Linked DNA regions of Homo sapiens. The protein of the gene in region 1 interacts with the protein of each later gene in a pairwise test. Each region holds a gene or a part of one and is shown on either strand. Other genes may lie near its edges. The genes, in order: OTX2, TBCEL, TNPO2, SNRPA, HIKESHI, RBM47 and IQGAP1.

Region 1 (3,500 bases):
GTTAGGCTCTCCAAACTCAATTTCAGAGCAATCCTGATGAAAGTCACAAAAAGTCTACCTACCACTGTCATTCATATCTATTTTATGCATAGATTAGCAAAAAAAAAAAGTAAAAATAAGTTTGCTAATTTACTCTCTGTCCTAAGAAAAACGTGTTTTGGGGAGGAAAGGCTGAATGTAGGCTTCTTATTCATAAATAGCGGTGTAAAATTAAACTGGACCCAATGTTGTGCTAGAACCATTTTAATATAATTATACATATCTGCCAAATCCAGGAAGAAAAGGTTTATGCATATATAACTTTTCCATTTAACATCTGCAAGCATAAACGACAATGATCTCAGTTTAATAATTCATCAGGGTCAGAGCAATTGACCAATGTCTCTTTACTGCTAGGCTTACCAACAGTAAATTACAGATGAATTAGTGTCCTTTTGCTTCTCTTCTCTGACTCTCTTTGTCCAGAGACATTTTGTCGTAAAGTTTCAGTGCAGCTCACCTCCAGCCAAAGGTAATCTTTTTAGATCAGTACTCAGTTGCTCTGAATTTTGCTTATAATTATAACCTATTTAATCACAGAAGAACCCCTGCAGAGGTGGAGTTCAAGGTTGCATACAATAACAGGAGATCACAGTTTTGAAGTCTAGCACAGATTAAAAACCACAGATGTACCATTTATAAGACACACACTGATTGTCTCTTAAACTACATATTGACTCCTTATGAACATTATTTTTTAAATAAAGTAGTGCATCTAGGACAATCAGTCACACAATTCACACAGCCCTGAAAAGTTTTTTCAGTGCCAACTACCAGTTGGTCATGAAACGTGAATGAGCTTGAGACACTGTTCATTCCTAAGATTCAACCAAGGATTGGCTAAAACAATGGAACACCTCTGCTTAAGAAGGCTATGACCTTCCCTCCCTTCCTTCACAACTTAGTTTTGTTTGATTTTATTTTTGGTGGTGTTTGGTTGCACATGGCTAGAATGCTTTTGATCACTTTGCAAATCAGGATAACCAATGATCTAAAACTATGACAGGATCTTAAGCAGATTGGTTTGTCCATTTCATGTTGCTGGTTTGTAGGCCCCTCTAAGGCCCTTCGTTTTTCCTTCTATGCCTCTCGGAACTTTGATCAGATGAGTCTGAGCATCATCCCATCTAACTCTTTTAACCAATGCCTGGCTAAAACTGGAATGTCCAGCCCAGTATATTTAAAAATCACCCACAAAAAGAGGTTCTACAGGTCTTCACAAAACCTGGAATTTCCACGAGGATGTCTGATCTTTATAATCCAAGCAGTCAGCATTGAAGTTAAGCTTCCAGGAGGCAGTTTGGTCCTTATAATCCAAGCAATCAGTGGTTGAGTTAAAACCCAAGCTTGAAGCTCCATATCCCTGGGTGGAAAGAGAAGCTGGGGACTGATTGAGATGGCTGGTGACTGCATTGGTACCCATGGGACTGAGTGTGGCCCCTGGTCCGGGAAGCTGGTGATGCATAGGGGTCAAATATGATCCACAGTCCATGCCCCCAAAGTAGGAAGTTGAGCCAGCATATCCTTGACTATAACCTGAAGCCTGAGTATAGGTCATGGGATAGGACCTCTGCATGCAGGAAGAGGAGGTGGACAAGGGATCTGACAGTGGGGAGATGGAAGCTGGGCTCCAGATAGACACAGGAGCACTGCTGCTGGCAATGGTCGGGACTGAGGTGCTAGAGGGGGGAGTGAATTGGCCACTTGTTCCACTCTCTGAACTCACTTCCCGAGCTGGAGATGTCTTCTTTTTGGCAGGTCTCACTTTGTTTTGACCTCCATTCTGCTGTTGTTGCTGTTGTTGGCGGCACTTAGCTCTTCGATTCTTAAACCATACCTTGGAAGGGAAAGAAAATTCTTTAACTCGGTTTTGATAGTTCCTTAAGGACAAGAATGGCTCCCGTATTATAAATCTATCCTACATGGGCAGATCAGCTAAACACACAATTTCCCCTGCCACTGAAGACCTATTATGTGGTACTCTCATATAAACTCCTGGACTTGTAAGAAAGTTGGGGAGGCTCTGTCTAAAAACACTTGACACTGTCTTATTTCTTGCCCAGAATAACATTTAAGATAATCCCCCAAATCATATAGCTAAAAACTCTCCACATCACTTTCCTATCTTATTTCGCCTCTAACACACACATACACATAGACCCAGCTATATTTTGGAACACTCTCACAGAGGAATAGAATGTATCTCTGTCTTTTGGAGGGAAATACATGAGAAGTGAGAGAAAGCAATTCTGTTGTTACAGGCTAACAGGAACAGCCTAAATTCATTTACAGTTCATCTTCCAGGAAGCAACTGCTAATATAGAGGTTGGTTGGTTCCATCACCCTTCTGTCTCTCTTAGAAAGACTCACAGAACAAAGCTCCAAGGGGAAGACATGATCTTGTTGAAGAAAGAGGTCTGAAAGCCACTATTTGCTAAAAGCTTCTTTGTGGTAAAAGGAGTGACTTACATGCACTCTGCTTTGAGCTGGAGCACAGACCTGCTAGTCTCTGGGACTCGAGTCTGTGTTGTTAGAGTAGTGCCACTCAGCACATAGACTCAGTCTCCTGTGCTGTGTTTACTGACTTACCACTTCAACCCCCTGCTGCAATCTTGACAATTCTCTTTACCAGCCCTGTTCATGTTCTGCAATGAAGGAGCTATGATTGGTGTACGAGGGGGCTTAGAAGAGGAACTACTGGCATTTTCTGGAGGACAAATCCTTAGCTGAACTTTTGAATGAGCTCTCTGTATGGGTGCCGTAACTGTGGTAAAAGTGAGGCCACCAAGGCCAAGCTCAAGACCACCAACCATTTGGAGCCATTTGTTTTCTCCTAGTGAGGACTTTGGTTCAAGCCTTGCAAGTGCTAAAACTTCCTCTAACCTACTTTGAAAAAGCCCCTTTCCCAATTTGCAGCTGACACTGATGTCTGTCGCTTTCATAAACATATTCTAGCCGAAGGAGAGGCCCAGGTGTGTATGTGGTTTATGTGCTAAACACTTTGCAGAGAATTCTGTACAGGGCTCACTCACAAGGCAAGCTGGAGTTGACCTTCCCTCTCCAGTTTAAGGTCAAGTTTAGGGGAACTAAAACAAGAGGGGTGTCACTAGAGACATTATGTAGATATTTTATCTGTTAAATGGCTCAGAACTAGAAAATTCTCTTCAATCCCTAAGAAGTCAAGGAAAATACATTCTTTTTGTGTTGATTTATTTGGTAAAAGCACCAGCTGCGTCTATACCCTGACTCTGCCACCAAACTTAGTTATGACCTTGAGCAAGTCATTTACTCTATTTTTTCATCTGTAAAAATACTTGGACTGTCCAAGAGCTAAGCTGCTTTCACACGTACAAGTCCATGAGAATAGGAGAGGATTTCTATACAGAGGAAGGGAAGGGTTACAACACCACGTGACTACTCTTGAAACCTGCTCAAGGATGGGTCTCTCTCCACCAGCAACC
Region 2 (3,500 bases), on another chromosome or scaffold:
CCTGTGTAACTAATCAGCAAGACCTATCAATACCACATCCAAAATATCCCAATTTTGCCCAATTTTGTCCATCTCTATTACTTTATTCTTGTTCAAGCCATCATCAACTTCTCACCAGGACCTCTGCATTAGCCTCCGCCCTGGTCCCTCTTGACTCTTATACAAATCATTCTCCACAAAGCAGCCAAGTGATCTTTTCAAAATTTAAGTCAAATCATGTCCTTTACACTCTCCAATGGCTCCCCTTCACATGCAGAATAAAATCCAATCTCTTCATCATGGTCGCCAAGGATTCATTTAATCTGATCACTGCTTACATCTCTAACCTCATTTCCTCCCACTCCTTTCCTGGCCCACTACTCAGCCTCCGTGGTTTTCTATTTCTCAGACTTGCCAAGCTGATTTCCCCCTACAGCCTTTGCATTTGCAGGATTGCCCTTTTCCTGTCTCTTGGCAGAGCTGCTTCATCTCAGTGTTTAAGTCTCAAATTTAAACACAAATGTCACCCTCTCAAAGAGGCTGCTTCTGACCACCCCATCAAAAATAGCACTACTGCCACCATCACTCATAGTCACTTCACCCTCTGTCATTCTTTATAGCACTTATCATAATCCGTTAGTTCAGTGTTTGTTCTCCAGCAGAAGATAGGTCCCACACAAGCAGGGATTTGTCAGTCCAGTTCAGTTTTGTGCAGAGCAGTGCCTGGCATATGATTAAAAAATATTCATTGGATAAATGGAAAAGTGAATTTCATTATCAATAGACATGAAGCAACACCTTCTGACAGTGAAATGAAAATGAAGCTCACCAATGGCAGAATGAGAAGAAAAATTTTGAAAATCACCGGAAACGCATTATTCCAAGAACAGTTTTAAATAACTTTTCACAATAGTACTTGTTATGGATCACATTCCTAAGAATGATTAGTGATTAATCAAAGTTTCACACAGTTTTAAGATCCTGAATTTGGGAAATGGGCTACCTGTTTAAATTTCATTTTTAGAAGAGCACTGTGATTAAAAGCATGGTCTTCAGTTAGTTCTGAGTTCACTTATGACTACTGTGTAATTTGAACAAGTTACTTACCTATCTCTATGCCTGCTTCCTCACTTGTAAAATGAAGCTATTAATAGCCATTTCACAGTTATTGTGAAGACTACATGAAATAAAGTTTTTGAAGCATCTAGTTAAGTACCTGGCATGAAGTAAGTGGTCAATAAACTAGTTATTATTGTGAAAGCTGAGACGTCCAGACAAATGGAGGAGCTGATATGAGTCAAATAAACAAACATCCTCCCCTTTTGGCAGAGGTGGGAATACATGCCAGGATTAAATCGTTTTTCCCTCCAAAAAGACAAATGTACACAAAGGTAATATATAAGAAGCATGGACAAAGGACTTTGAGAACACTGAGGGAGTGACTGTCTTCACTAAGGAGGTCAGTCACATGTAAAACTGAGTTTTACAAGACAGCAGCAGAAATGTACTAGATGAAAAGAAGGGGAAAGCATCTGCACAAACACAAATGAGTGAGAAATGCAAAATAAAGTGAGAAATGTAGTGTAGTTGGTGTAGAGTATAGAGTATATGTGGGAAGACGGCTAGAAAATAAAGAATTGGTAGGGCCAGATGGTAAGGGGCTAAGGTCCACCATTCAAAAGTTTGCACTTTATTCTTCCATCAGTGGGGAGATGAAGGGGAAAAATCCTAACATGCTAATTTGATACCAATTCTTCTAAAGAAGGCGGAAACACCTTTATGACTTTAAACACCACATAGGGCCACAATCTGTTAATGTAAAATAGAAAATATTTTAAGCCTTAGTTCTTAAAACCATATGAGCAATTTGTTTGTTAACAATGACTGATCTGGAACCTCTCTTCATGATGTTTTATTATTACTGCGGTGACCACTGTTGTGCTAGGCATCATCATGACAGCAGATAAAATCTATTGTAAGTTTATTATGTGTTGTGTACTGTGTTGTTTTATATGTATTATCTCACTTAGTTATCACAACACTTTTATAAGGGGTACTATTATCCCATTTTGCAGATCAGAAAACTGAAGCAGAGAGGTTACGGGCCCAGAGCTAGTGACAGAGCCAGGACTCAAATCTAGGCTGACTTCAAGGCCCTAAAATTAAACCAGTTTGCTGAATTATGATATTGCTCAGTTCATTAACATCACTTGCTGAAAAGTTATTTGAGTACCTACTGTAATTTAAAGCATCAGGCTAGGTCAGTGACTTTTAACTTTTACTGTATGGAAGAATCATCCAGACAGCTTGATAAAATGCAGATTCCTAGATTCCACCAGAGATTCTGATTCAGTAAGTCTAGGTCAGAATTCAGGGATCTGCTTTATTTTATTTTATTTTATTTATTTATTTATTTTTTTAAACAGTGCCTCACTCTTCTTGCCCAGGCTGGAGTGCAATGGTGTAATCATAGCTCACTGAAGCCTCAACCTCTGAGGCTCGTGATCCTCTGGCCTCAGCCTCTCAAGTAGCTGGGACTACAGGCATATACCACTATGCCTGGCTAATTTTTTAATTTTTCATAGAGATGGGTCTCCCTACGTTGCCCAGGTTGGCTTTGACTCCTGGATTCAAGCGATCCTCCTACCTCGGCCTCCCAAAGTGCTGGGATTACAGGTGTGAGCCACAATGCCTTGCCGGATCTGCATTTTTAACCATACGTTCAGTCAATTCTGATCTACTTGGTCTATGAACTACGCCCTGGTAGACCCTGTGCTAGATGTCCTAGTTTTTCATGGATATTTGAGCCTCCTGTTCACCACGCATTTATAATCTAAAAGGGATAAAAATAAGGTGCACAAATAATACAAAGCAATATAGCAAAGGCAGTACAGACAACATAAGCAACAAAGACTTCAAAGAAGAGGGGTCATCTGAAATGAAATGAGAGTGAGTAGGATTTCATGAAGAAAGGGAACATTTTATATGCAGACTTTCAGGGATAATTTTACACACAAAGGAAGGTACATGAGCAGAGGCCTTGGCAGGTAGAGGAACTGCATTTAGGAGTGTAATGATGATGCCAGAAAAAAAGTAGAGGAAGTCTGTAGAAGGCCCTAAATATCAAGCTAAACACCATGGGCTTTATTCAGTGCCTGTACTGGAAAGCAGCTAATGGTTTTTGAGGAGGGAAATGAAATAATCATAGCAATATCCTTTGGAAGAGTTCTCTCATGAAGCTATGCAAGCAAAAGACAATGGGAACAGTCCAGTTATTACCATTCTAATTCCAAAGAAGTAAGTCAGAATGGGTAGCATGAAAAAGGGAGGAATAGTAAATCTCAATAACTAATCACGTGTAGGAGAAAGGCAACAATCGCAAATAAGGATTCCTTCACCCTTTAAGCCCAAATTGTATCACTATCAGTTTCACATTACTTCTTATACAGCTAACCAGGCCCAAAATATATAAAGAGTTCACTTATTTAAAACACAGCCCAGGACTAAGTAAACTGGTCTCT
Region 3 (3,500 bases), on another chromosome or scaffold:
GGTAGGAGGATTGCTTCAGCTGGGAGGTCAAGGCTGCAGTGAGCCATGATTTTGACACTCCACTCCAGCGTGGATGACAGAGCAAAACCTTGTCTCAAAATAAAAAAGAAAAAAATGATTTGGAGAGAGGCAAGCAATCCAAGTTTGTCAAGGAGGGTCAGTTTTAGGACTTTTGTTGGAAACACTGGTCGAAAATTTCTTTACTCTGAAGTTCCTAAGCTGGAAGGGCACAGAAGGCTACAGCACTACCCAGAGGGAAGGTTGTGCCTAAGAATGAAGCCAACACAAGGGAAGCAGATCTGAGACCACAAAGATGCCTTTCACATCCTTTGAGCTCCTGGATACAGCCATACCCCTGAAGCCTTTGTTGATTTTTCATTTCTTTTTTTTTTTTTTTTGAGACGGAGTTTTGCTCTGTCACCCAGGCTGGAGTGCAGTGGCACGACCTTGGCTCACTACAACCTCAGCCTCCTGGGTTCAAGCAATTCTCCTGCCTCACCCTCCCAAGCAGCTGGGACTACAGGCGCCTGCCACCACGCCCAGCTATTTTTTTATATTTTTAGTAGAAATGGGGTTTCACCGTGTTAGCCAGGCTGGTCTCGATCTTCTGACCTTGTGATCTGCCCGCCTCGGCCTCCCAAAGTGCTAGGATTACAGGTGTCAGCCACCACATGTGGCCATTGATTTTTCATTTCTTTCCACCTATCAGTTACCTAATTTTGAAGTCTTCAAAAAGTGGCATTCTTACCACTTACACATAAATATATACTGAATGTAAACTGACAAGGATGTGGACTGAGAGAAGCACAGCAGGTGACCAGAAGGGAAGGCAGAGGCATAGCAAGGGGTCGAAGCTGGGGTAGGACAGTGGGCAGCAGCAGCACTCACTGGACCAGATGGGAGGCCAGGACTTCCTTGCAGATGGGCTGCTCGGCCAGCGTCAGCCAGAACTCACAGGCCTCAAGGGCAACGTTCTCATCATGGTCCTGGGTCCTCTGCAGCATGTACTGTGGTAGGGGGGAGAAGCTGAGGCCTGGCCTGGCTGGGGGTGGCTCCCTGACCCCTGCCACCGGCCCCCTGCCTGCCCGCCTGGGCTGGCCTTGACCATGCACACCTGGATGATGCTGTGCATGTGGGGGATGAGCCTGTCAATCCGCACTTCCAGAAGCATCACCAGGGCACGGCACACATTCTTCCGCACCTCGGGGTCATCATCCACAGCCAGGGCAAATAGGTGCTGCAGGGAGGAACAGGGTCAGTTGTAGGGGCCCTCAGTCCTCGCCCTGCCCACCCCCAGCCCAGCGGCCCACCTCGATGAAGGTGTCAATATTGTCCATCAGCGCCTGGGCCCGGTCCATGATGAACTGGTTCACGCAGGCGATGGCGTGGGACCTGGCGGGGAGCAGACACGTGGGTCACCCTGACCCTGCCCACTCCAGGCTCCCTGGAAGCCCCCAGGGAGCTGCACCCACCGGATCTTGGGACTGCAGTGCTTGAAGAACTGCAGGAACTTGGGGATCATGATGTTGAGGGGCCTGTTGAGGGCGTCACTGTCCAGAAGCTCTGATGAGTCTTCACAGATCTTCTGCAGGGCTCCAAAGGCTCCCTGAGTGCAGAGGGGCAGAGAGACAAACGTGGGTGGTGGGTGGTGGTCCCAGCCCCCCAGTACTCGCTCTGGCCATCCATGGCTTCTTGCCTACCTCACAAGTGTTGTAATCCTCCGAGTTAAGCAGGTTGCAGAGCTGGGGCAGCAGCTCGGGCCACATCTGCAGCTCACCCTTGGAAGCGATGGTGGTGATGAGAATGCCTGGGGCGGCCGGGAAAGGACGCTGCCTGAGGCTGGGCAGGGGCTGCCTAGCACCTCCCCCTCCCACTGGACACCCCCAGTGCTGCCTTTCTGTTCCCTAGCCCATGTACGCCCTCTACATCCCCCCTCCTTTTTTTTTTCTTTGTAAGAGATAGAATTAGCTCTGTTGCCCAGGCTGGACTGCTGTGGCACAATCAATAGTCCACAGCAGCCTCAAACTCCTGGCCTCAAGCCATCTTCCTGCCTCAGCCTCCTAAGTAGCTGGGACTGCAGGCACATGCCACCACGCCCAACTAATTTTTAAAATTGTTTGTAGAGATGGGATCTCACTATGTTGCCCAGGCTGGCCTAAAACTCCTGGCCTCAAGCAATCCTCCTGCCTTGGCCTCCAAAAGCACTGAGATTACAGGCGTGAGCCACCGCTCCTGGCCTTGACATAGGTAGAAGGGTACTCCTTGACTCAGTAGGCACCCTGAGCCTTACTGTGAGTCAACTCTGTTCCAGGCCCTGAGGCACAGCACAGAGCAAAACACAAAATCCTCACCCTTGGGAGCTGGAAGCAAGCTATGAAGTAAAGATAAATTAGCAAAAAAAACTGGGAGGGGCCGTGCATGGGTGGCTCATGCCTGTAATCCCAGCACTTTGGGGGACCGAGGTGGGTGGATCACTTGAGGTCAGGAGTTCGAAACCAGCCTGGCCAACATGGTGAAACCCCATCTCTACTAAAAATACAAAAATTAGCTGGGTGTGGTGGGGGGCACCAGTAATCCCAGCTACTTGGGAGGCCGAGGCAGGAGAATCACTTGAACCTGGGAGGCAGAGGTTGCAGTGAGCAGAGATCGCGCCACAGCACTCCAGCCTGGGATGGAGCAAGACTCCATTTCAAAAACAAACAAAACAAAAACAAACAACTGGGAGGGGCCACATGCCAAGGACTAAGGGGGGAAATACAGCAGAAAAGATGGTGAGAAAGGGCTGTAGGTGAAGGTAGCAACTTTAAATTGGGTGGCCAGAGCAGGCCTCGTTGAGGTGACATCTTGATATCTGAGCCAAGGCCTGAAGGAGGTGAAGGAGGCGAGGGAGGAATCATCCAGGTTTCTGGGGAAAGGGCATCTGAGGCAGGGGACTCTATGGTGCAAAGGCCTGGCGTAAGGACAGGCATGATGAGAGAGGGAAAGGAGGTAAGGGCAGGAAGGTGGCAGGGATGCTTGTACTGCCTATTAGATATCCAGGAGTTACATACAGCAGGCATCTGAGGTGCCAGGACAGTGCACATATCTGGTGACAGAGCTGGATATGGGTTCTGTTAAGTGCAGAGATGGTATTTGCTGCCATGAGATGGCAGTGTTTCCCAAGGGTGGAAACTCAACGAGAGAAAGGTGCTCCCTGCAATGGGTAGGTACACAGTGAGGATTGTGGAACTTTAGCCACACCCCCTCATTCTGTGTGCCTCAGTGCTTCCAGCCCTCAGAAGAGATAAAGAAAACCAGCCTCCTAACTAAGGTTATCAGTAGGTTTCTTTTTCTCTCTTTTTTTTTTTTTTTTTTTTTGAGATGGAGTCTCACTCTGTAGTCCAGGCTGGAGTGCAGTGGCACAATCTTGGCTCACTGCAACCTCCACCTCCCGAGTTCAGGTAATTCCCCTGCCTCAGCCTCTGAAGCAGCTGGGATTACAGGTGCCCGCTGCCACACTC
Region 4 (2,344 bases), on another chromosome or scaffold:
CGCCCCATGATTTCAGCAGCACCAAGTTTCCTGTATTAAATTCCTTTCTGTTTGAACTACCTACTGTGGTTTCTCTGGGGCCATTGCTACAACAGGCTGCACTTTTGAGAAGAGTAAAAAAAAGGTGAAGAAACACCTCTCCCTGAACACTCTTGTCATCTGTTAGAAAAGTGGTGGCATAAACTTGTAAGCCTACAAAGTGAATGGTGTGCCCTTAAAAGGTGCCATTCTTGTGCAGTACCCATCCTGCCTAACTGTACGCGGCAGCCCTGACTTTCCATTTCCTGACCCAGGATTCCATTTCCTGCTGTGAATTGGGACAACATACAAAACTGCCAAAGTAGTCATTGTAACCTGAGTTTGAACAATATTACTACACTATCCTATGTTTCCCCAAGGTTGCAAACCTCAAAATGCCAAGAGGTCCAAAAACCCAGGATGTGCTGCTGAGGTGGAGGGAAAGGAACCATGAAGAGCAAGAAAATCAGACAGACAAATGATTGTGAAAAACCAAACCTCAAAAAGCCACTTTAATTCCGGCCTAACAGCGCCAGGTGCAATGTCTGGGGACAGACTCTGGGTACAATGCTGTGTGGCGACCACTCACTCACACACGGCTCCAAGAAGGCCCCCAAGGGGGGACTTACCTTCAGGGGGCTGAGCCAAGGGGGAAAGGGGTGGCCCCAGAACAGGGGAAGGGGCAGGCATGGGGGGAAAAGGTGCTACTTCTTGGCAAAGGAGATCTTCATGGCGTTGTTCTGCGTGATCTTAAAGCCCTGCAGGGCATCGCGAGCTGCCCCTGCCTGTACCTCATTGTCAAACTCCACGAAGGCGATGTCATGCCGCCCGGGTACCAGACGGACCTCCTTGAAGCCAGGGAACCTGAAAGAGAACGACAGACCTCAGGGACTCAGCATTTCCCCCTAACGTAACGGCATCAAGTGGACAGAGGCCAGAAATGATGCCAAATAGCCTCCAATGCACAGGGCAGGGCCCCATTACTCAGAATTATCCAGCCCAAAATGCAGATAGTACTAAGTTGAAAAACTCTAATGTAAACATAGCATTTAATGAAAAATTTAAACACAAACACCCATGCAACTGCAACCTAAATCAAGAAACAGTACACCGCAGTCTCCTGGGCCCTTCCTAAATCATAACCCACCCGCCACACCAAAAAAATAACCAATACCCTCACTTTTTCCATTTTTATTCTTGTATTTTTAGGAGAGAAGGGGTTTCACCAAGTTGCCCACATTGGCCTCGAACTCCTGACCTCAAGTGATCCACCTGCCTCAGCCTCCCAACATACTGGGATTTTAGGCGTGAGCCACCGCACCCGGCCTTACCCTCACTTTTCTGATATGCTGTTTCTCTAATTTCCCTCTTCTCATTCCATACTTCTTTCTCCATTAAGCAGCCATCCTCATGTTTACTAGGTATCCTTTTTTCCATCGGCATTCTCACAAAATATACAGCTTTGTGGACAGGCTGCACATGTGGTATTGTTTTTCTGTATTTTTCAGGTTCTCACAATCTTCTCTCGGCACTATTATAAAGTTGCGCTTTCTGTTCTTCTAAGTGCCACGCAGTGCAGCATGGTGAGATGCTGCATGTAGCCATCCCTTCTCCCAGACACCCTCCAACTCCCCACCACAAACACTGACGAATGCCCCACTCACAGCCCCTGAAACAGAACCACCAGATGAACTCACCCACACCCACGACTTCACTCAACAATGGTGAACAGCCCCTCTACACATCGGCTGCACCGGCCTCCACCCTGACGCCAGGCACAAGAGTTTCACGCATCCCCATCTCCCACACTTGCTGTTTCTGAGCACGCTGACTTCTGCCAGTCTTAGCCAATGTTCAAGGACATCTCAATGCAGTTTTACACATACCTTGCCTTGCATGCCCCCATTTTAGGGGCTGGGAAAATGAGGCCCAGAGCCTGGACTCCCTCAGCCCTCAAACAAGGCTGAAAAAAGCCGGCAAGCCCTGGCCATGGAGACCTTTCCAGCCTCACCCCCATGTCCCCCACAGGCCGTGGGCCCAGCCACAGCCTCCTCCTTTCACATCTTTGGTCGCTGTCCCTTCTGCAAAGCCCTACTTGGCTCAGAGCTCTGCTGGCAGAGTTCTGAGGCCTGTTTCCATGGAGATGCCTCCTGGCCATCACCCTCCAGGGACCACCCAGCCACAGGCCCCACTTACTGATTGAAAAGCATGGACAGCATGAGCTCGTTGGTCTCCTCTGGCAGGTTGGTGAGGAACAAGATGTGATTCGGTGGATTCTCAGAAAGCTGCGGGGGTATAGGGGAGTCGGTGAGCACAAGAGCCCTGA
Region 5 (3,500 bases), on another chromosome or scaffold:
CATGCTGCTATAAAGACACATGCACACATATGTTTACTGCGGCACTATTCACAATAGCAAAAACTTGGAACCAACCCAAATGTCCACCAATGATAGACTGGATTAAGAAAATGTGGCACATATACACCATGGAATACTATGCAGCTATAAAAAAGGGTGAGTTCAAGTCCTTTGCAGGGACATGGATGAAGCTGGAAACCATCATTCTGAGCAAACTATCACAAGGACAGAAAACCAAACACCGCATGTCCTCACTCATAGGTGGGAATTGAACAATGAGAACACCTGGATACAGGGCAGGGAACATCACACACGGCGGGCGGGTCTGTCTTGGGGTGGGGGGCAGGGGGAAGGATAGCATTAGGAGAAATACCTAATGTAAATGACGAGTTAATAGGTGCAGCACACCAACATGGCACATATATACATATGTAACAAACCTGCACGTTTTGCACATGTACCCTAGAACTTAAAGTATAATAAAAAAAAACTATTTGACTATTTAAACCAAATACATGTAATACTCATAAAAATTTGGAGTAACTAAGTAATTAAATTAGAAACATGTTTAAACAGATACAGATAGTACTATACATATTTTGTGGATACACAGGAATTTTTTTAAGTACTAAAATATGAATAGGAAAGATATAAAAAGTTAGAAGGTAAAAGGCAGGAAGAGAAGCAGGCAGCAGTGGGCTATATCTATAATGCCTTAATTTCTTTTTTAAAAATTAGTGGCAAATAAGACAAAATATAACAGTTAAATCCAGGGGGAAGACAATGGAAGTCTTAATGTATACCCCACCATAAAGAGAGCTCTGTAAAGACAGGTGTTATTCTATTTTGTGGACCTATTTGTATCTATGAGTGCTTAGAAATGCCTGGTACAGGCTGGGCGCGGTGGCTCACGCCTGAAATCCCAGCACTTTGGGAGGCCAAGGCAGGCGGATAACGAGGTCAGGAGATCGAGACCATCGTGGCTAACACGGCGAAACCCCATCTCTACGAAAAAATACAAAAAAAATTAGCTGGGCCTGGTGGCGGGCACGTGTAGTCCCAGCTACTTGGGAGGCTGAGGCAGGAGAATGGCGTGAACCCAGGAGGCGGAGCTTGCAGTGAGCCGAGATCGCGCCACTGCACTCCAGCCTGGGCGACAGAGTGAGACTCCGTCTCAAAGAGAAAAGAAAAAGAAAAAAAGACATGCCTGGTACAGAGTAGTTACATAATAACTATTTGTGGAAAATATAAGTTACTCTATTTTCTCTGTATTTAAAATATTTCGTAATACATTTAATTAAAACTATAGTTTTATTTTAAAAACTCAAATAATTTATAAACATGTACAGTAAAAAAGTCTTCTTACCCTTCTCCAGGGATAACATTTTAATGTGTATTTTCCAGACACTTTTAAAATATTGTCTACACAGGATACTACGATTATTTTATAGTTTGTTTTCAGCACAGCAGCTTATTTGTAAAATTATGGGAAAAAAAACATTTTTGAGACCCAGAGTCTGTCATTCTCAATTCAGTCCATTTTCAAAGATGTGACAAATCTACCTTTACATTCATGACCACAACCTTCAAAAGTGCGCCTCTGGTACTGCCAGGCAAACACATATGGTTTCCCTAATCCATTCACTCCTCCTCTGCTAGAAGACTTATTTAGTAGTCTTTTTTTATTTCAATTTCTACTACCTCGATCTTAGCTGATGATCGTCCTTTCTATTTCACTAAGCAAGAAGAAATCAGGAGACAGCCTGCACAAGTTCTCATCACCACATCTACCAGCCTCCTGAATCTGTACCCATATATCCATTATCCTGTCTAAAGTGAACACCTCCATATATGCTGCTATTTTCTACTCAAGGACACTGCTTTAGCAGTTCTCCTTGCTCTCCTACATCATCAATTTTTCCTCTTGATAATAGGCTAAGAAGTCAGGAACAGAAAGACAAATAGCATGATTGATCTCACTTATATGTGGAATCTAAAAGTTGAACTTACAGAAGCAGACAGTAGAATGATGGTTGCCAGGGGTTGAAGAGTGGAGGGGAAGGGAAAATGAGGACATGTTGGTCAAAGGGCACAAAGTTTCAGTTCAATGGAATGAATAAATTCTGAAAATCTATTGTACAGCATGGAGAATACAGTTACTAATAATGTATACTTGTAATTTGCTAAGAGATCAGATCTTAACTGTTCTCTACAAAAAAATGATGACTGTGTGAGGTGACTGATATGTTAAGTAGCTTGATTTTATGTCAAAATATAGGCTGGGTGTGGTGGCTCACACCTGTAATCCCAGCACTTTGGGAGGCCGAGGCAGGAAGATCACCTGAGGTCTGGAGTTCGAGACCAGCCTGGCCAACATGGCAATACCCTGTCTCTACTAAAAAAAAAATACAAAACTTAGCCGGGTGTGGTGACATGTGCCTGTAGTCCCAGCTACTCAGGAGACTGAGGCAGGAGAATCGCTTGAACCCGGGAGGCGGAAATTGCAGTCAGCCGAGATTGCGCCACTGCACTCCAGCCTGGGCAACAGAGCAAGACTCCATCTCTCAAAAACAAAATAAAACAAAACAAAATGTAAACATGTATCAAAAACATCACATTGTATACCCTAAGTTACGATTTTAACTTGTATATTATACCTTAATAAAGCAGTGGAGGGGGAGGTAAAGAATGAAATGTATGTTGCATTACCTGAGTGAATGAGTCAACTGAGGATACAGCAGCATTACCTACAGGAGTCTGCTGAGCCATACTGTCTAATAATTCCACTGAAATTCCAATCTGAGCAACAGATGGAGTTCGGACAATATTCATGGCTCCAAAAGGATGTTGGCTTCCTTCTCCTGCAAGAAATTAACATATGACACACATTTCAAATTAAACTTGTAGTCACACAATTTCCTTTGTAAATTTATAAAGAACCTCTAATTTATATACATGAAAAAGTTTTATGTCCAAGTTTGTCCCTCTTTTCAGATAAATGCAAAAGCCTACTTCGTTTTTAGCATATTAACAAAGAATAAAAGAACTAAAAGTTTCCCACCAGAAAAATAGCTGTCACATTTCTGAAATGTATTGAAACTACTGCAACTAGACACAGACAGTAACAGAGTGTGGGAAAAATAAATAATTAATAGAGAAGACTCCCTTTAGCATTCCTTATGGAGCAGGTCTGCCAGCAATGACTTAGTTTTTGTTTATCTAGGAAAGTATTTCTCCTTCATCTCTAAAGACAGTTTTGCTGAGTATATAATTCCTGGTTGATGGCTTTTTTTTTTTTCCTTTCAGAACTCTGAATATGCCAATCCACTACCGTCTAGAAGACTATGGGGTCTCTGATGAGAAATCAGCTATTAATCTTAGCAAGGATCCTTGCATGTGATGAGTTACTTCTCTTGATGCTTTCAACATTCTCTCTTTACCTTTTGACAGTTTGATTATCGTGTGTCTTGGTGTAGTTTATCCTACTTGGAGTTTCTTGA
Region 6 (3,500 bases), on another chromosome or scaffold:
GCCTCAGCCTCCCAAAGTGCTAGGATTACAGGCATGAGCCACCACACCCAACCAAGAAATTTCAACATTAAATCTGAACATGAAGACCTTTCCCTTCTTCCAAATGGAAGATAAGGATATATTTTTAAGAGGACTATTTGCATAAACACCCATGTAGTTACAATCTGTGACCTAGGCAGGAAATGCCAGGTACATATATAAATACATAGGAGACAATTCAAGATCTTACCTGTTGTACTGTATACAACATTAACTGACTAAAGTCCAAGGGAATAGAACTTATCTCTCTGCTGAGATAGGTGGAGTTGCCTTCCTGTCACCCTAACTGTGCTTTGAAACTACTATTCTACCTACAAAAACAGTCTTACAGTAGTCAGGCTACGGAGTCATTGCCAATTCCAACCCCAATAATATAAGAAAAAATCCTGTTTGCTTTCAGTCTGAAATCTGCTGGTGTCAGTAACACAATTATCTCTACATATTTTAAAATAGCGATAGCTTATTTCTTACATCAATGAGCCAAGAAAAGCCTTTCTTCACCTATGCTATCATCTTCTGTAATAAACAAACCATGTTAGCGACCCTGTTTTTATTTTTACTTTGGCCTCTAGGAAGTTCACGATTGATTTTTTTCACTCCAATTTTAGTAACTGTAGGGGACATTACAACACACTTTCATGTTCATCTAATTTGGGTTATAGTTTCATTTTTTAGTTTTCTTCTATTTTTTCAGTTTTCCCAGTGACATGAATTGAGCTGTTTGTATTATTTATCTTATTGTTCACATGTTCTTATAAACCATGTTGTAATTTTGGAGGAGACGAATCAATGCATACATACATGCATATATATCTAATTACAGCCAGACATTGATTAATGCAATATCCAAATTTGCTGTGTCTCTTACACCAACTACAAGTATTGCATACCAACAAGTGAGAACCACAATGAGATACTACTTCACACTCATTAGGATAGTTATTATAAAAACAACAAAAAACAGGAAATAAGCATTGGCAAGGACGTGGAGAAATTGAAACCCTCATGCAGTGCTGGTAGGAATATAAAATGGTACAGCCGCTGTAAAAAACAGTATGGTGGTTCCTCAAAAAATTAAACATAGAATTACCATTTGATCCAGCAATTCCACTTCTAGGTATATACCCAAAAGACTCAAATAGATACTTGTATAATGATGTTCACAGCAACAGTATTTACAGTTGCCAAAAGATGGAAGCAACCCAAATGTTGATCAATGGATTATGATAAACAGAACGTGGTATACATATACAATGCAGTATTATTCAGCCTTTTTTCTTTTGCTTTTTTTTTAGACAGAGTCTCACTCTGTCACCCAGGCTGGCGTGCAGTGGTGCAGTCTCTGCTCACTGCAACCTCCACCTCTCAGGTTCAAACAATTCACCTCAGCCTCCCAAGTAACTGGGACTACAGGCGCACACCACCACGCCCAGCTAATTTTTGTATTTTTAGTACAGGTGGGGTTTCACCATGTTGGCCAGGCTGGTCTTGAACTCCTGACCTCAGGTGCTCTGCCCGCCTCGGTCTCCCAAAATACTGGGATTACACGTGTGAGCCACCGTGCCCGGCTTATTCAGCCTTGAATAAAATTCTGATACGTGCTACAATATGGAAGAACCTTGAAGACATTATGCTAATAGTGAAATAAGCCAGACACAAAGGGATAAATATTATATGATTCCACTTATATAAGGTACCTAGAGTAGTCAAATTCATAGACAGAAAGTAGACTAGTGGTTACCATGGGCTGGAGAAAGGGAGGAGTGGGGAATTAGTGCTTCATGGGTGTGGGTGTCTTAATTAGGGATAATAAAGGTCTGGAGATGGATGGTGGTGATGGCAGCACAACAGTGTGAATATACTTCCTGCCAATGAACCATACACTTAAAAATGGTAAAATGTTATGTATAATATACCACAGTAAAAACAAAATCCTTTAAAAAAAAGAAAAGGTTCAGAGATGCAAAAAAGACAAAAATTAGAGTTGATAAAACTAGGATTTCATTAGAGGCCATTAAAAAATGATACACTGGGCTGGGCACAGTGGCTTACACCTGTAATCCCAGCACTTTGGGAGGCTAAGGTGGGCGGATCACCTGAGGTTGGGAGTTCGAGACCAGCCTGACCAACATGGAGAAACCCCATCTCTAATAAAAATACAAAATTAGCTGGGCGTGGTGGCACATGCCTGTAATCTCAGCTACTCAGGATGCTAAGGCAGGAGAATCCCTTGAACCTGGGAGGCGGAAGTTGTGGTGTGCTGAGATGGCGCCATTGCACTCTAGCCTGGGCAACAAGAGTGAAACTCCTTCTCAAAAAAAAAAAAAAAAAAAAAAAAAAAAAAAAAAAGGTACACTGACTCAGGTTAACACATTCAAGAAAATCTTATGGCCTACAAGTTTTATTCTCCTTATCATCATGTTTAATATACCATATTAAATAAATTATATGGTGTGCTACTCTACTCAATGAATTCAGATGCCAAACACTTAGATATATTAAAAGATAAATGAGGCTGGGCTCAGTGGCTCACGCCTGTAATTCTGGCACTTTGGGCGGCTGAGGCAGGTAGATTGCTTAAGCTCAGGAGCACGAGACCAGCCTGGGCAACATGGCAAAACCCCATCTCTACAAAAAGTACAAAAATTAGCCGGGCATGGTGGTGTGTGCCTGTAGTCCCAGCTATTTGGGAGGCTGAGGTGGAAGGATCACCTGAGCTCAGGAAGTTGAGGCTGCAGTGAGCTGTGACTGCGCCACTGCACTCCAGCCTAGGCAACAGAGTGAGAACCTGTCTCAAAAACAACAACAACAATAACGAAAAGGAAAAGATTTTCAAGTTACTTTGAAAAAGACAACTGTACAGCTAACATGACCCTTCTCTCAAAGATGTAATGAAATGCTTAACTTATTGTAATTATATGTGCTTTAGATTAGCATTGGCAAGCTATGGCTGTGGGCCAAATATGGCCTGCTGTTTGTTTCTATAAATAAAATTGTATTGGAACACAACCCTATCCTTAAAAAAAAAAAAAAGAAAAGATAATGTGTGGCTGCTTTTATACTACAATGGCAAAGCGAAATAGTTGAGACCCAGACAGTGTGGCTCATAAAGCCTAAGGTATTTACTCTCCGGCTCTGTTGACCCCTGGTCTAGGAGATGTGGAAGAGCGCATCCTTGAAGCTCTTAGATTCTGCTTGCTACGTATAATAGTTTTCCTATGCTGAATGATAACTTAATTTCAGGACTAATTTTTAAATTCTAACTGTTTTTTTTTTTTTTAGATGGAGTCTCACTCTGTCATCCAGGCTGGAGTGCAGTGGTATGATCTTGGCTCACTGCAATCTCCACCTCCAGGATTCAAGCGATTTATCTGCCTCAGCCTCCTGAGTAGCTGGTATTACAGGTGCGTACCATCATGTCCGGTTAATTTTTGTATTTTTAGTAGAGATGGGGTTTCACC
Region 7 (3,249 bases), on another chromosome or scaffold:
GGCCTCCTAAAGTGTTGGGATTACAGGTGTGAGCCACTACGCCAGCCCCTTTTCTTCTTTTTTTACTGCTGTGATTTACTTTTTCCACATTCAACATCCCCTAGTCTTTTCTGGTGACTTCCAAGTGACATAGGAACCCCCTAAGGGGCACAGTCTATGTGCTCAACAACAGTATGCTGGTCAAAAAAGGTTAAATGCTGTTGCAATTTTAAACTTTCCACCGTTCGTCAATCAGAATTAAGTGACATATAATGTTTGCTTCCCGCAACACCCTTCTTTTTATGGTGAAGATAACTTAAGCATATTCATTAAAAAGGCTAAAGTCACACGTTCACACATTAAAAGTCACTTTGAGACATTCAATGATCTGATGGTGGACTTACGTTTTCTCCTTTAAAAGGAAGGGGTTGTCTGCTGTTGTGATTTTAACTGATACATCTCACTCTAGTCAAGGTGTTTAGCAGGAACTGTTAACAATGAAACTGAGAAAAACACAAACATGAACAAATGACCTTTTATTTCATACAGAGATACAAAGGCAACTATGTGCAGCAACAATCTGACGGGCAGTCCAAACTCTTGGGAGGAAGTAAATTCATGGTAAATGTCATGATGGCTGGTCGAGGAGAAGGTCAAAGGAGGAGAGAGAGGAGACAGAGAATGCTACAGCTAATAAATAACAGTAATGAGAACTGTGTGGTTTCAACGCCATGAGTTTGTTGGGGCATCCTCTGTGCTACTAAAGCCACAATTCTATATCATCATCATCAACATTCTTGAAGCGCATTTTACACTATTCTGCATTAGCAATTGTGTTGAGGGAACTATAAACCTTAAAATTACTGACACATTTTATTAAAGGAGCTGTAAACTCTGCTCATTATTGCCTGTCTTGGATGTGGCCTTTGGGATTCATAGCCTCTTTTAAGGAAACAGGGTTGACACACTTTGGTTGGTCCCAGTTTTTGAGGCAATGCTAGTTGTAATAGCATCATCTTTTAATCTGAGGAAAATGTTTCTTTAAAAAACCTGTCTTCCAAAATACAACAAAAAACAAGGTCTGGGTAGTGGCGAATCCTTCCATGGCACTCCATGCCTCCCTGTGGGCTGTAACCATGCACCTGAGTAAAGAGTCTCATAAAAATACTTCTCCAATGCATTTATAATAGGGACACACTACATAGTTTGTTATTCATTAAAGCAGTTTATTGGCTTAATGTACATCAGTGAATTTTTAAATGCTAAAAATTTATGATAAAAGAATACTGAATCAAAACATCAAAGAAAGAAAATAGAGGCTCAGCAGCATGATTTCAATATATTTTCCTGGAAAAAGTTTTTTTTTTTTTTAAAGTGTATGACTTTTTATCCAAGAACAAAAGCTTTCTAAATGCAATGTTTAGACTTGATTTTTTTTTTAAACTAAGCCCAGAAAACTGGGGCTCATAAAATAAAGGCACAATGTGGGCAGCAAGAGAAAAAAGGAGAAAAAATGGGGAAAAAATTGGTTTTAATCTCACGTGTAACATAGGTTGGCTGGTTTTGTTTTTGTTTTAGACAATTAAAGGCAGAATTATCTCCCTGAACACTGCAGATAAATCCTAGTGTTTTAGCTATAAGTTTCAAGAGTTCAGATATACAGATAAAGCAATTTAAAAAAAGCTTTTCTTATTCTAAGGCTTTTGATGCATTATATAAATCTTTAAAATTCCTATCACCCACATTTTAAGACATACATCTATACTTTAATAAGGCACTCTTAAGATATAAAACAGTTTTAAAAACAATGACATTCTACATTAGGGCTAACCCATTCCTCTGCCATAGGGATGGAGTGAATTGTCTCTCTGAATCAAGTCAATCTCTGTGCACCAACAAAAACAGGCAGGTGCCTTGACCCATTCTGAATTTATCTGAGTAGCTGAATTTTAGCAATGGGACTCTCCCATCCACTAGTCGGGGAGTTACACAAACAGAATTGCCCAAGTTTGATAATGAAATTTAAAAACATTATCTCCTTTTTTCTAGAAATGCTTCCTTTGAACATGACTGTCACTTCCATTAGCTCCTGTCCATAAAGAAAAACACAATGGAAGATAACCAATGATTCCCCATATCCTTCAGTTTTCCTGATGGGACAGAAATATAAAGGAACTTTATTTTTAAATGACAACCTAATAACTGTTAATAACATGACATTTTAGTTGTGTGTCTTGTATGTATTTATGTCATTGGTGCTAATAGCTTCCACTTCTAAATGACACACATTTGAATCCTACCATCCCTATTGCTAATTAAACAAACACCAAAGCTTACAATATAGTACTGCAACCTCTAAGACTGTAACAACACAGAGAAATTTTAGTGGAGTTTCCACTCTTTCCTAAGTAATGGAAGAAAATGAAGAAACCAGAAAGGTCAGACTAAGCCTGAAACACAATTTCACTATGAAAAAAGGGTAACAAATGTCCCATCAGAGCGAGAGGAGTTAAAAATGTGGCATCGGGAGTGTATCAGATTGAGGTGCTGTTGTTGGCTAGGTCTTTGCTTCCAATGAGGAAAGAAGGACCTAGAAAGGAGCTGTGAGGTGCTTCTTTCCTTCATCCTTCTGGGCTGGCAGCAAACGATCAATTACTTCCCGTAGAACTTTTTGTTGAGAAGGAAGATCAGGAGGTTGACATTTACTTTAGCTCTATCAAATAATTTCATGACTGCAACTCCTTCATACTGTAGCTGCAGCAGGTCCTATTAACAAAACAAAACAAAACAAAACAAAACATTTTGACAGTTAATCAAGTCTGTGGAACAAGGAAAAAGGACACAATGTAGGGAGGGATCCAGATGGACTGAGGCCTGCCTTGTGTGCCAGATGTGAACTGGGGCGAAAGAAAAGTTCCACGCTAGGCAACTACCCACTGCACAACCAGCCTGAGAGCTGGAGCAATAGGGCACATTGGCCAAGGGAGGCTTCTGGTTGATTTGGAGTTAGGAAGTCATGTTGTTCATATCAAAATTCATCATACATGGAAAGAAAAAGAAACATGTTCAATTGCCACACACATCTAAGCTTTTTATTTCAGAAGTCACAATGACATTTTCCCATTTCATCCATGTTATGGGTCACTAGTTTTAATAAATCTGGAAAAGGTGAAGCATTTAAACCTATGATGAAATATACTAAGCACGGGGAAATGAGATAAGGCTAGTAATGTCACCTTAATACTATCTGATAGATTCTTAATTTCTATT

The links.
Region 2: the proteins of OTX2 (region 1) and TBCEL interact in binary tests that used the Homo sapiens proteins (3 or more experiments, as listed by UniProt).
Region 3: the proteins of OTX2 (region 1) and TNPO2 interact in binary tests that used the Homo sapiens proteins (3 or more experiments, as listed by UniProt).
Region 4: the proteins of OTX2 (region 1) and SNRPA interact in binary tests that used the Homo sapiens proteins (3 or more experiments, as listed by UniProt).
Region 5: the proteins of OTX2 (region 1) and HIKESHI interact in binary tests that used the Homo sapiens proteins (3 or more experiments, as listed by UniProt).
Region 6: the proteins of OTX2 (region 1) and RBM47 interact in binary tests that used the Homo sapiens proteins (3 or more experiments, as listed by UniProt).
Region 7: the proteins of OTX2 (region 1) and IQGAP1 interact in binary tests that used the Homo sapiens proteins (3 or more experiments, as listed by UniProt).

Annotation. Positions count from the first base shown.
Region 1 is NC_000014.9:56,800,480-56,803,979, forward strand, and holds part of OTX2 (homeobox protein OTX2), read right to left. Parts: intron 1,877-3,500; coding exon 1,256-1,876; 3' UTR 1-1,255. UniProt on the Homo sapiens protein: Transcription factor probably involved in the development of the brain and the sense organs. Can bind to the bicoid/BCD target sequence (BTS): 5'-TCTAATCCC-3'.
Region 2 is NC_000011.10:121,027,102-121,030,601, reverse strand, and holds part of TBCEL (tubulin-specific chaperone cofactor E-like protein), read right to left. Parts: intron 1-3,500. UniProt on the Homo sapiens protein: Acts as a regulator of tubulin stability.
Region 3 is NC_000019.10:12,713,933-12,717,432, forward strand, and holds part of TNPO2 (transportin-2), read right to left. Parts: intron 1,808-3,500; coding exon 1,701-1,807; intron 1,607-1,700; coding exon 1,473-1,606; intron 1,393-1,472; coding exon 1,311-1,392; intron 1,238-1,310; coding exon 1,115-1,237; intron 1,008-1,114; coding exon 889-1,007; intron 1-888. UniProt on the Homo sapiens protein: Probably functions in nuclear protein import as nuclear transport receptor. Serves as receptor for nuclear localization signals (NLS) in cargo substrates.
Region 4 is NC_000019.10:40,763,546-40,765,889, reverse strand, and holds the end of SNRPA (U1 small nuclear ribonucleoprotein A), read right to left. Parts: intron 2,304-2,344; coding exon 2,215-2,303; intron 883-2,214; coding exon 723-882; 3' UTR 501-722; downstream 1-500. UniProt on the Homo sapiens protein: Component of the spliceosomal U1 snRNP, which is essential for recognition of the pre-mRNA 5' splice-site and the subsequent assembly of the spliceosome. U1 snRNP is the first snRNP to interact with pre-mRNA.
Region 5 is NC_000011.10:86,336,740-86,340,239, reverse strand, and holds part of HIKESHI (protein Hikeshi), read right to left. Parts: exon of another isoform or gene 3,307-3,500; intron 2,862-3,306; coding exon 2,710-2,861; intron 1-2,709. UniProt on the Homo sapiens protein: Acts as a specific nuclear import carrier for HSP70 proteins following heat-shock stress: acts by mediating the nucleoporin-dependent translocation of ATP-bound HSP70 proteins into the nucleus.
Region 6 is NC_000004.12:40,441,365-40,444,864, forward strand, and holds part of RBM47 (RNA-binding protein 47), read right to left. Parts: intron 1-3,500. UniProt on the Homo sapiens protein: Single-stranded RNA-binding protein that functions in a variety of RNA processes, including alternative splicing, RNA stabilization, and RNA editing. Functions as an enzyme-substrate adapter for the cytidine deaminase APOBEC1.
Region 7 is NC_000015.10:90,499,491-90,502,739, reverse strand, and holds the end of IQGAP1 (ras GTPase-activating-like protein IQGAP1), read right to left. Parts: intron 2,746-3,249; coding exon 2,632-2,745; 3' UTR 501-2,631; downstream 1-500. UniProt on the Homo sapiens protein: Plays a crucial role in regulating the dynamics and assembly of the actin cytoskeleton.